Homo sapiens: one gene and its partner. The protein of the gene in region 2 purifies or fractionates together with the protein of the main gene of each other region. This does not show direct contact. Each region holds a gene or a part of one and is shown on either strand. Other genes may lie near its edges.

The links.
Region 1: the proteins of USH1G (region 2) and POTEF purify together in Homo sapiens (affinity purification with mass spectrometry; 2 studies listed by BioGRID and IntAct, with this or other methods). This does not show direct contact.

The regions. Positions count from the first base shown.
Region 1 is NC_000002.12:130,072,905-130,077,395, forward strand, and holds the end of POTEF (POTE ankyrin domain family member F), read right to left. Parts: intron 4,298-4,491; coding exon 4,177-4,297; intron 2,669-4,176; coding exon 1,340-2,668; 3' UTR 631-1,339; downstream 1-630.
Region 2 is NC_000017.11:74,915,583-74,920,558, forward strand, and holds the end of USH1G (pre-mRNA splicing regulator USH1G), read right to left. Parts: coding exon 3,872-4,976; intron 2,495-3,871; coding exon 2,491-2,494; 3' UTR 501-2,490; downstream 1-500. UniProt on the Homo sapiens protein: Plays a role in pre-mRNA splicing by regulating the release and transfer of U4/U6.U5 tri-small nuclear ribonucleoprotein (tri-snRNP) complexes from their assembly site in Cajal bodies to nuclear speckles, thereby contributing to the assembly of the pre-catalytic spliceosome on target pre-mRNAs.

The DNA of each region.
Region 1 (4,491 bases), on a different chromosome or scaffold from region 2:
AGCGTGGCTGTGCTGTGCTGAGGTACCTCTTCCACCCCTTGTCAGCTTGGGCTCTCCAAAGCCCGCAGGCCAGAATGGCTAGTCACCGAAAGAGCAAAGGTGGGGGCCTGCCCCTCTCCGGGAGCTCTGTCCCAGGAACATTTCACATTTCCATTGGCCAAGGAATGCTGGTGGGGGTAGCTGGAGGCCCCAGTTGGGAGGTCCTGTCCAGTGAGGTGGAACAGGATCAGGGGCCTGCTTACAGAAGCAGTCTGGCCATGATTTGGTAAAGCAGCTATGCTGTGCTGTGGGATCTCTTCTGTCCCTCGTCGGTTTGTACTCTCCAAAGCCCGCAGGCTGGAATGACTACGTTGCCTGAACGGGAAAGATGGCGGCCTGCCCCGTCTTTTCTCTCAGAGTTTTATCTTGTTTCGTGGAGCTTAATTTTTAGCCTGTTGATTTTACTGTCTTCATTAGACTTGTTGAGAAAGAATCTGTTCTCTTTTAGGTGAGATAAATGAGAATTCATTGTCTTCTGTAAATAAACCTGTTCATGTCTTGTTCTCTGGAAAGAAGTCTCTTTCAGCTATCTGACTTTGGTCACAATCATGTAGAGCAGCAGCCAGTCTACAATGACGTAATTGAATTTCCATTTCCAGTGTTTCCTCGTTGTGTCTTACATTGTCCAGTTCAGAACTGAGCATTTTATTCTCAGTTGTCAACATGCTAAGCTGTCCACTGTACTGAAATACTGTGCTTCCTCAATTTGTTTTAAGGTGTGCACTTTTATCCAACTCTCCTCAAGTCAGAGTACAGGTAAGCCCTGGCTGCCTCCAGCCACTCTCAGGGAGACCAAAAGCCTTCATACACCCCAAGTTGGGGTACAAAAGAGGGGGGCCACGAAGGCTGATCATTCAAAATAAAACAAAATTAAAAAGTATTAAGGCGAAGATTCAAAAAATTTTGCATTATGTAATTTGCACAAAAGCAATGCTATCACCTCCCCTGTGTGAACTAGGGAGAGGACTGGGCCATTCTCCTTAGAGAGAAGTGGGGTGGCTTTTAGCAGGGCAAGGGGCTTCCTGAAACAATGCGTCTCACAATATTTGGAATGACTATTGAAAAGAAGAACAAGGTACAATCAAAGTCCTTGGCCACATTGTAGAACTTTGGAGGAAGCTTCCTCCAACCGACTGCTGTCACCTTCACCATTCCGGTTTTTAAATCCTGAGTCAAGCCAATAAAAAACAAAACAAAAAATGAAACAAGAAAACAAATAAAGCCATGCCAATCTCATGTTGTTTTCTGAGAAGTTTGGTTTTGTCAAGAAAGGGTGTAACGCAACTAAGTCAGAGTCCACCTACAAGCATTTGCGGTGGACAATGGAGGGGCCTGACTCATCATACTCCTGCTTGCTGATCCACATCTGCTGGAAGGTGGACAGCGAGGCCAGGATGGAGCCACCGACCCACACGGAGTACTTGCGCTTGGGAGGAGCAATGATCCTGATCTTCATCATGCTAGGCGCCAGGGCAGCGATCTCCTTCTGCATTCTGTGGGCCATGCCAGGGTACATGGTGGTGCCGCCAGACAGCACTGTGTTGGTGTACAGGTCTTTGCGGATGTCCACATCAGACTTCATGATGGAGTTGAAGGTAGTTTCATGGATGCCACAGGATTCCATGCCCAGGAAGCAAGGCTGGAAGAGCGCCTCGGGGCAGCGGAACCGCTCGTTGCCGATGGTGATGACCTGGCCATCGGGCAGCTCGTAGCTCTTCTCTAGGGAGGAGCTGGAGGCCACCGTGGCCATCTCCTGCTCGAAGTCCAGGGCAACATAGCACAGCTTCTCTTTGATGTCACGCACGATTTCCCGCTCGGCCATGGTGGTGAACCTATAGCCATGCTCGGTGAGGATCTTCATGAGGTAGTCAGGCAGTTCCCGCCCAGCCAGGTCTAGGCGCAGGGTGGCATGGGGGAGGGCATTCCCCTCATAGATGGGCACAGTGTGGGTGACCCCGTCACCAGAGTCCATCACGATGCCAGTAGTACGGCCAGAGGTGTACAGGGACAGCACAGCCTGGATGGCCACGTACATGGCTGGGGTGTTGAAGGTCTCAAACATGATCTGGGTCATCTTCTCGCGGTTGGCCTTAGGGTTCAGGGTGGCCTCGGTCAGCAGGACGGGGTGCTCCTCGGGAGCCACACGCAGCTCGTTGTAGAAGGTGTGGTGCCAGATCTTCTCCATGTCATCCCAGTTGGTGATGATGCCGTGTTCCATGGGGTACTTCAGGGTCAGGATGCCTCTTTTGCTCTGGGCCTCCTTGCCCACATAGGACTCTTTCTGATGCATGCCCCCCATCATGCCCTGCTGCCTGGGGCGCCCCACGATGGAAGGGAAGACAGCCCGGGGGGCATCGTCGCCCGCAAAGCCGGCCTTGCACATGCCAGAGCCGTTGTCAATGACGAGCACAGCGGTATCATCATCCATGGTGAGCTCATTCAATTGTAGAGCCTTTAAAAGATTATCATTCCTTTTTTTCACACTTTCAATATCCTCCAAATATTTCTTTTCTCTTAGCTGGCTCTGATGTTTCATTGTGTCTAGCTCCAGTCTTAGCATGGCAATTTCTTCCCGCAACGTACTATTTTCATGCAAGATGTCTTTTTCTTTCTTACAACTAAGAGAAAGCTAAGTAAACAAAGAGAACTTTTAGTTAGCACTCAATAGATTGACATATCATGATTTCTTCTGAAATTCAAAAATAACATGTATTTGTATAATGAAAGAATCCCCATAGTGGATATTTAACTGGAAAAAAATTGGACAAAACTTCAAACCTAATAAGAGTGTAAATTCCTCCAGTGATTTATTTTTCATCGTCTTTAAATAAATATTTAAACTTTTAGGAATCTGCTCCTAAATTCCTAAAAGTTTAAATATTTATTTAAAGACGATGAAAAATAAATCACTAGAGGATTTTTAAGAATCCCAGAATTAAAAAAAGCCTTTTTTCTGAGTTACAAAAAACCCAGAGGCATAAAATATAAGATTAATAATTTGACTACATTTTTAAGATTAGGTTTACACTCTGATATCTAACCTATCAACCACACCATCCTAAGAGCCTTAGCTATGCATATATTTGGACAGAAGCAATTTCTCAAAGTTCTTTAAGTTTCTTTTACTTAAGAACGTTTTACCGATATTCTACATTTCTAATATTTCTATACTCAGTTATAAGAATTACATTTATTTATAACTGTCAAATAAGCACTGTACCCTTCTACACTGTACACATCTGTATCTAGGCATTGCTCTTCTACATATAATACTGAACTCATTTAAGATCGCGATTCTTAAAAGGAGAGGTCAAAAAATATACACAGATGCAGGATTTTCCCCAGGTCTGCTGATGCTACTTCTAGTGATCCTCCACAAAACCACACTTACTTCTGTGGTGTAAATATATAAATACAAAAGAAACCTTTTGTTTCAAAATATGAATGGTAAATAAGATACAACTTATAGAGATTTTCTTAGAAATCATGAGATTATTTGCCATTGCGGTAACTTTTATTTCCTCTTTATAATGTTTGAAACAGTAGTAATGGTGAAATAGGGGAAATATACTGAACTATTTCTCCAGAAAGAAAATACTTATCAATAAATTATTACTAAATGTGTATCATGGCATGTCATTCTTTTCAAACCTCTTTACATTGAAATGAGAAACTACTTGGAGCAAACTGTTCCTCTCTGCAAAAGTAAGGATAATGGTATCCACAATGTGGCCTCTGACCCAGCTATACATTTCCTACTTTCTTATCAGTAAAAATAATCAATTGACTTCTCTATTAACATTTTTTAAAAAACTAATGTCCAAAAACGAGAAAATCTGTTTTCAGTAGCAAAACTTATTTCTGATGTGGAAAGATCATCAATTCTTATGAAAAATATCAAATACTTCTCCTTTGGATTGAGGCCATTGTGCAGGTCACTACTCAACTGTTGCAGGCAAATGAAGGTGAATTAAGAACATGGCTTTATCCTATACGTACGTATATAGATATATGACAAAGGATATATAGAATATATACACACATATATATGACTTAAAAATCCTTTATATTTCCAAAATACAGTTCTTTAAAATATACACACATATAAAAACATTTGAAAATAACTAAAGAAAATACCTCAGAATTCATTTTTTCAACCACTTCTATCTGCTTTTCTTCATGAATCAGAATCTCATCGTGTAATATTCCAGTGTTCTGTTCTTCACAAAATTGCTTCTGAGTATCATTTTGTTCGTCACTAGAAGAAATTTTAATTTTCATGAAATACTGGAGCTGTCCCTAAAATGATGTACAGGGCAAGATGGCGCCATCAGATGTCATTCACACAATGCATATCTGCACATTATTCCAAGACAAGGCAAAGGGGTCTCACATCTGTTAACCAGGTGTCCCCAACCATGCTGGCACCAGGGACTGCTTTTGTGGAAGATA
Region 2 (4,976 bases):
GGCTTCAAATCAGGCTGCCCACGAGCTGCCTGCGGTGATGAGGGACATGGAGACCCCTCTGGGCCTCTGGAGGGCCCTCATGGAGACCCCTCCAGAGGCCCAGAGCCCAGGTGACAGGCAGCAGCCTCCTGGAGTATGTTTCTGCCCATCTCTGGAAAAACCCAGGTAGGCACTGGTGGGAAGAGAGAACATGCATCCTCCTGCCCTCCGTAGCTGCAGGCCCTGGCAACAAGCCTGGAGGCTCAGCCATCCTCCTTGCTCAGGGGGACTCTCCTGCCCTAGTTCTCAGCCCTGCCTCTCCACCAGCTCCTAATTCTGGGCTGAGCTAGGAGAGCAGGTAAAGGCCTAGGGATCCCTGCAAAGATGCACAGCATGGGGTCTCGAAGACACTCCAGAGAATAGGACCCAGTCCTCACAAGCGCAGAGCAGACCCCCTCCCGCCCCCACCCCCACCCTTCCACTCTTCACTCTATCCCCAAAGCATTAAAGGACAAGACAGGTACGATACTGATAGAGAACATTCTCTACAAAAGTGGCAATGAGCCTGCAGGAGGGATTCGGGGTACAGTGGTGGGAGCACAGAGCCTGCTCCACCCCAGCACCAGAAGAACCAGGAGGGGCTGCGGCAGTAAACGGACGAGGAACAGGAGAGAAGGGGCAGCACCTGGGGCTCTGGGAGAAACAAGTCGGCACTTGGGGGTGGCCCCAGGCTCAGGCCCAGAGAACAGGGAGAAGAGCTGTGGTGGGCTCCAGATGGCGGTGGCAGGCAGCCAAGCCCTCAGTGTCCTGCAGTAGGACAGGGACCATCTCCTCCATGCCCCCTACTCTGGGCACATGTGTGGGAATGGGAACCCCCAGACAGACCAGAAAGAGGCCTTTGAGGGCTCTCTTTCCCCTGCCCCAGCCATGGGGGCCCCAGGAGATGCTGGGGGCTGAGGCCATGCTCCCAGCAGGAGCTGCTTCCCAAGCTGAGGTCAGGGATGGGGGGCCATGGCTGAGAAAGGAGGAGAGCACCTCTGCATGGGGTGCAAAGGGGCGCACACGTGTCAGCGGGCTCATCAGGGACTCTCCCACATCTGTGACCTCAGTCTGGCTGGAGAGCTTTGGGGGCATACGTCAGAGGACACATGCTGTGACCACCCTCTGAGCTGGCCTTTCCCCTGGTCTCACCACCATCAGAGGGCTGGGACACAGGTGAGCTCTCTTACCCCCGATCCACGCAGAATCACGCAACAGCCCAGTCCCTACCAGACCTGGAGGGAAACCTACCAAACACCACCCAACGTGAGTGTGCACACACGCACACATGCACACACACACACATGCATGCACACACACACATGCACACACATGCATGCACACACACAAACACGCACGCGTTCACGTGCACACACACGCACACATGTATGCAAGAACACACACACCCAAGCACACACCCGTGCTCACACATACCACATACTTACACACACATGCATGCACACACGCATACATGCACACAAACATGCACACGCACACAGCCCTGGTGACCTGGGGACAATCTGCAGTTTAGAGGATCCACTTTCTCCAGTGTCCACATCGCAGGACTTACCCACCCCAGGCCTGACACCCAGCCACACCCTGTTCTGCCTGTCCCAGGCCTGGGAGACTGAGGAGGTTGGCGGACACCTTTCTCTAGCCCAGCGCATGCCTGCCAGGCCTGGGGGCTATAATACTGCAGCCCATTGGTCTAGCACCTTGCATCTAGCGCCCTGGCCCTCTGGGGTCCCTGGGGGGCCAGGCTGCACAACGAAAAAGGGGGAGGTTGGAGGAAGACAGGCCAGGCTCCACCCCTGGATGAGCTGGGAAGGGCGTCAGTACCCCCACCCCACCCCAACCCGGCTTTCCAGCTCCGGGCCTTGACCACTAGGTGAAGGAGGGGGAGCTGGCTATGCTTGGGATGGGGTACAGACTGAAAGTTGGGGCATTTGGCTGAAGAGTCTGGCTGAGGAACTTCCCCTCTGGGGTGGACGGGAGGAGGGGAGGCAGCCCAAACTCTTCCCTTCACAACAATGCAGGAAGTGAGCAAGTCTCTGGCCTGAGCACAAGAGAACAAGACCATCAGGGGAGGGGTGGGAGAGGCCACGGCGCCCGGGACAGGTGCACCCTCCCGCATCCACCTCCCACACTCTCATCCAGTTCCGATGCCCCTGCCCTCCCTCTGGGGCAGGCCTCCCCCAAGTCTACATGTCCTTTACGGCTGCTCAGAATGGGTGGCTCAGGGCCTTCAAGACCCCTCAGAACTGGAGTTCCGGAACATTCTCTTGCCCCTCTGGTGCCTCCAGGCCACACCCTCAGCTTCAAGGTGCAGACAGACTTTCAAAGGAGTCGCCCCAACTGGTCCTTGCTCCTGGGGAAGGGGGCTGCAGGGCTGGCAACTGTGAGGACCTCGAGACCCCACCATAGGTTGTGGCAACTTGCAATTCATTTTGGTCTGGGGAGAGGAGCCCCCGGTTATCTGTGGAGGAAGAGACAGAAAGAAACAGATCTCACATGAGGCCCTCCAGAGGCATCATTTTCACCCAGGGCAGCCATCTGGACAACTTAGCCTCCCCATCTCTCGGCAGGCCAATTGTCAGGGATGGGGGACGCCAGCCTATGGGTGACCTCCCCATCCCCAAAACTCTGAACCAGCCTGCCTCCCCACACCCATCCCTGCCCCAGCCATTCAGGATAACGGCCATAGATACCTAAGAGGAAATGAGGACAAAGTTTGTTGGGCCTGTGGGATGCCATTGGGGAGGGGCCAGGGCAGGGGCTGGCCACAGCATGACCATTGTGGTGGCAGCCTTGGGCAACTATGACGGCCTTTGGAACATGAACTCTGCCTCCAGGGCTGCTGCTGACCCTCTTGGGAGCATTTGCCCACGTTCCTGATTGCAAAGTTCAGGAACAGTAGGTAAAACATCTCCCTAAGGCCAGGCGCGGTGGCTCACGCCTGTAATCCCAGCACTTTGGGAGGCCAGAGTGGGCAGATCACTTGAGGTCAGGAGTTCGAGACCAGCCTGGCCAACATGGCAAAACCCCATCTCTACTAAAAATACAGAAATTAGCTGGGCATGGTGGTGCACTCCTGTAATCCCAGCTACTCAGGAGGCTGAGGCAGGAGAATCGCTTGAACCCGGGAGGTGGAGGTTACAGTGATTGTGCCACTGCACTCCAGCCTGGATGACAAGAGGGAAACTGTCTCAAAAAAAAAAAAAAAAAAATCTGCCTGAGGTCTTGGGCAATTGAGAGGCCCTGCTGACTGCACGCCCTGCATCCCATGGCAGCCACCTTGACCCCAGGCTCTAAAGCCATGCAGACCAGGGATCAAGCCTAGCTCCATGCTGAGCAGCAGCAGGACCTTGAGGTGAGCTATTCTAACTGTCTGAGCCTCCACTTGCTCATTGGCTGTAAAATGGGAACGATATAATCCACCAATATAGTCCAGCGCACACAGGCTTTTAGAGGGATTAAGCAAGAGGACTTGTTCAAGGGCACAACCCAGCACCTAGGAGGTGGGAGGGCTCAAAAACACCCCAGCTGTGATTCCTGTGACTGTTGAAATTCATTGACATTAAGAGGCCCATTTCCCCACTTGTCGATGTCCCCAGAATCGAGGTGCACTTTCACTGTGATAAGAATGCCTCGGGTCATCATTAAATTGGCCACTTCTTTTTCTGAGCTGGTGGTAAATAAAATAAGGGTGCCTTTTATCATCGATGGCCTCATTTCGATTTTATGAAATACAGTATCCCCCACCCCCTACTCCTGAATAGGCAGATCTGTACCCCCTCCCCAGGGGCCTTCCAACTCCTGCTCCTCCATCCCCCCCGCCAGGCTGGACACTCACAGCTCTGTGTCCTCCAGGGCCGGCGGGCGCTCCATCGCCTGCCGCCGCCTCCTCACGGCCCCCAAGATCTTCTTTCGGGGCCCCAGTGGGACGCTGATGCTGCGGAGGTCGAGGTCAGAGCACAGCATCAAAGCCTCGAGGTCGATCTTCTCCTGCCGCAGGAGGGCGGCAAAGTCCTCCATGTGCAGAGAGGCCAGGAAGGTCTCCAGCGGGCTAGTCTCGGGCTCCAGGTCCTCGTCCAAGCCTAAATCGAGCTCATCCCAGGGCAGCTCCTCCCCACAGCTGCGGTCCTGCAGGCTGTTGGCACTGCCCAGGCTGTCATCGTCCAGGCTGGGGGAGCTCTGCAGCCGACCCCGCGGCGCTCCCACCCCATCCAGACCCCCATCCTCGCGGCCCAGTCCGTGCAGCCCACTGCTCAAGTAATTTCTGCGGAACACCATGGTGCCCAGGCCGGGGCGGGTAAACAGGGAGTCGTGGCCTGAGTCGGTGCTGACCTCCGAGTGGGCAGGCTCGGCCGCCAGCGTGGCACGGGAGACGCTGTCCTCGTCCGAGAGGAACATGTCCCGGAGCGGGGCTCGGCCCCACTCCTTGGGATTGGCGTAGGTGCCCTGGCGCACGAACATCACGTCGCTGCCCAGCTGCAGGCCCGAGAGCGAGCGGGCGCTCTTGCGCCCATCCTCGGAGACCTTGAAGGTGCCTTCGCCGCCCTGCTTGCGCCGCTCCAGCTTCTTCTGCATCTTGGTCTTGCCCCTGGCCGTGCCGTGCAGCGTGGCCTGAGAGTACGGCAGGTGGCTGCCCAGCGCCAGATGCTGCAGCCGGCGGCTCAGGGTGCTGGACGTGAGGCTGGAGAAGCTGAGGGTGTCGGAACGCTCGGCCAGCTCGCGCCGGTATCGCCGCTCCATGCGTTCGTGGTGCCTCCGCTGCAGCTTGGCGCACTCGCGGATGCGCCGCTCCGCCTCGCGGAAGGCCTTGTCCTTCAGCTTACCCACCAGCTTGGGGTTGAGGCTGCTCTGCTTGGCCGCGATGGAGTCCAGGTAGCGCACGCATTCCATGTGGCCCTTCATGGCAGCCATGTCCAGCGGCGTGTGGTAGTCGTTGTCTAGGC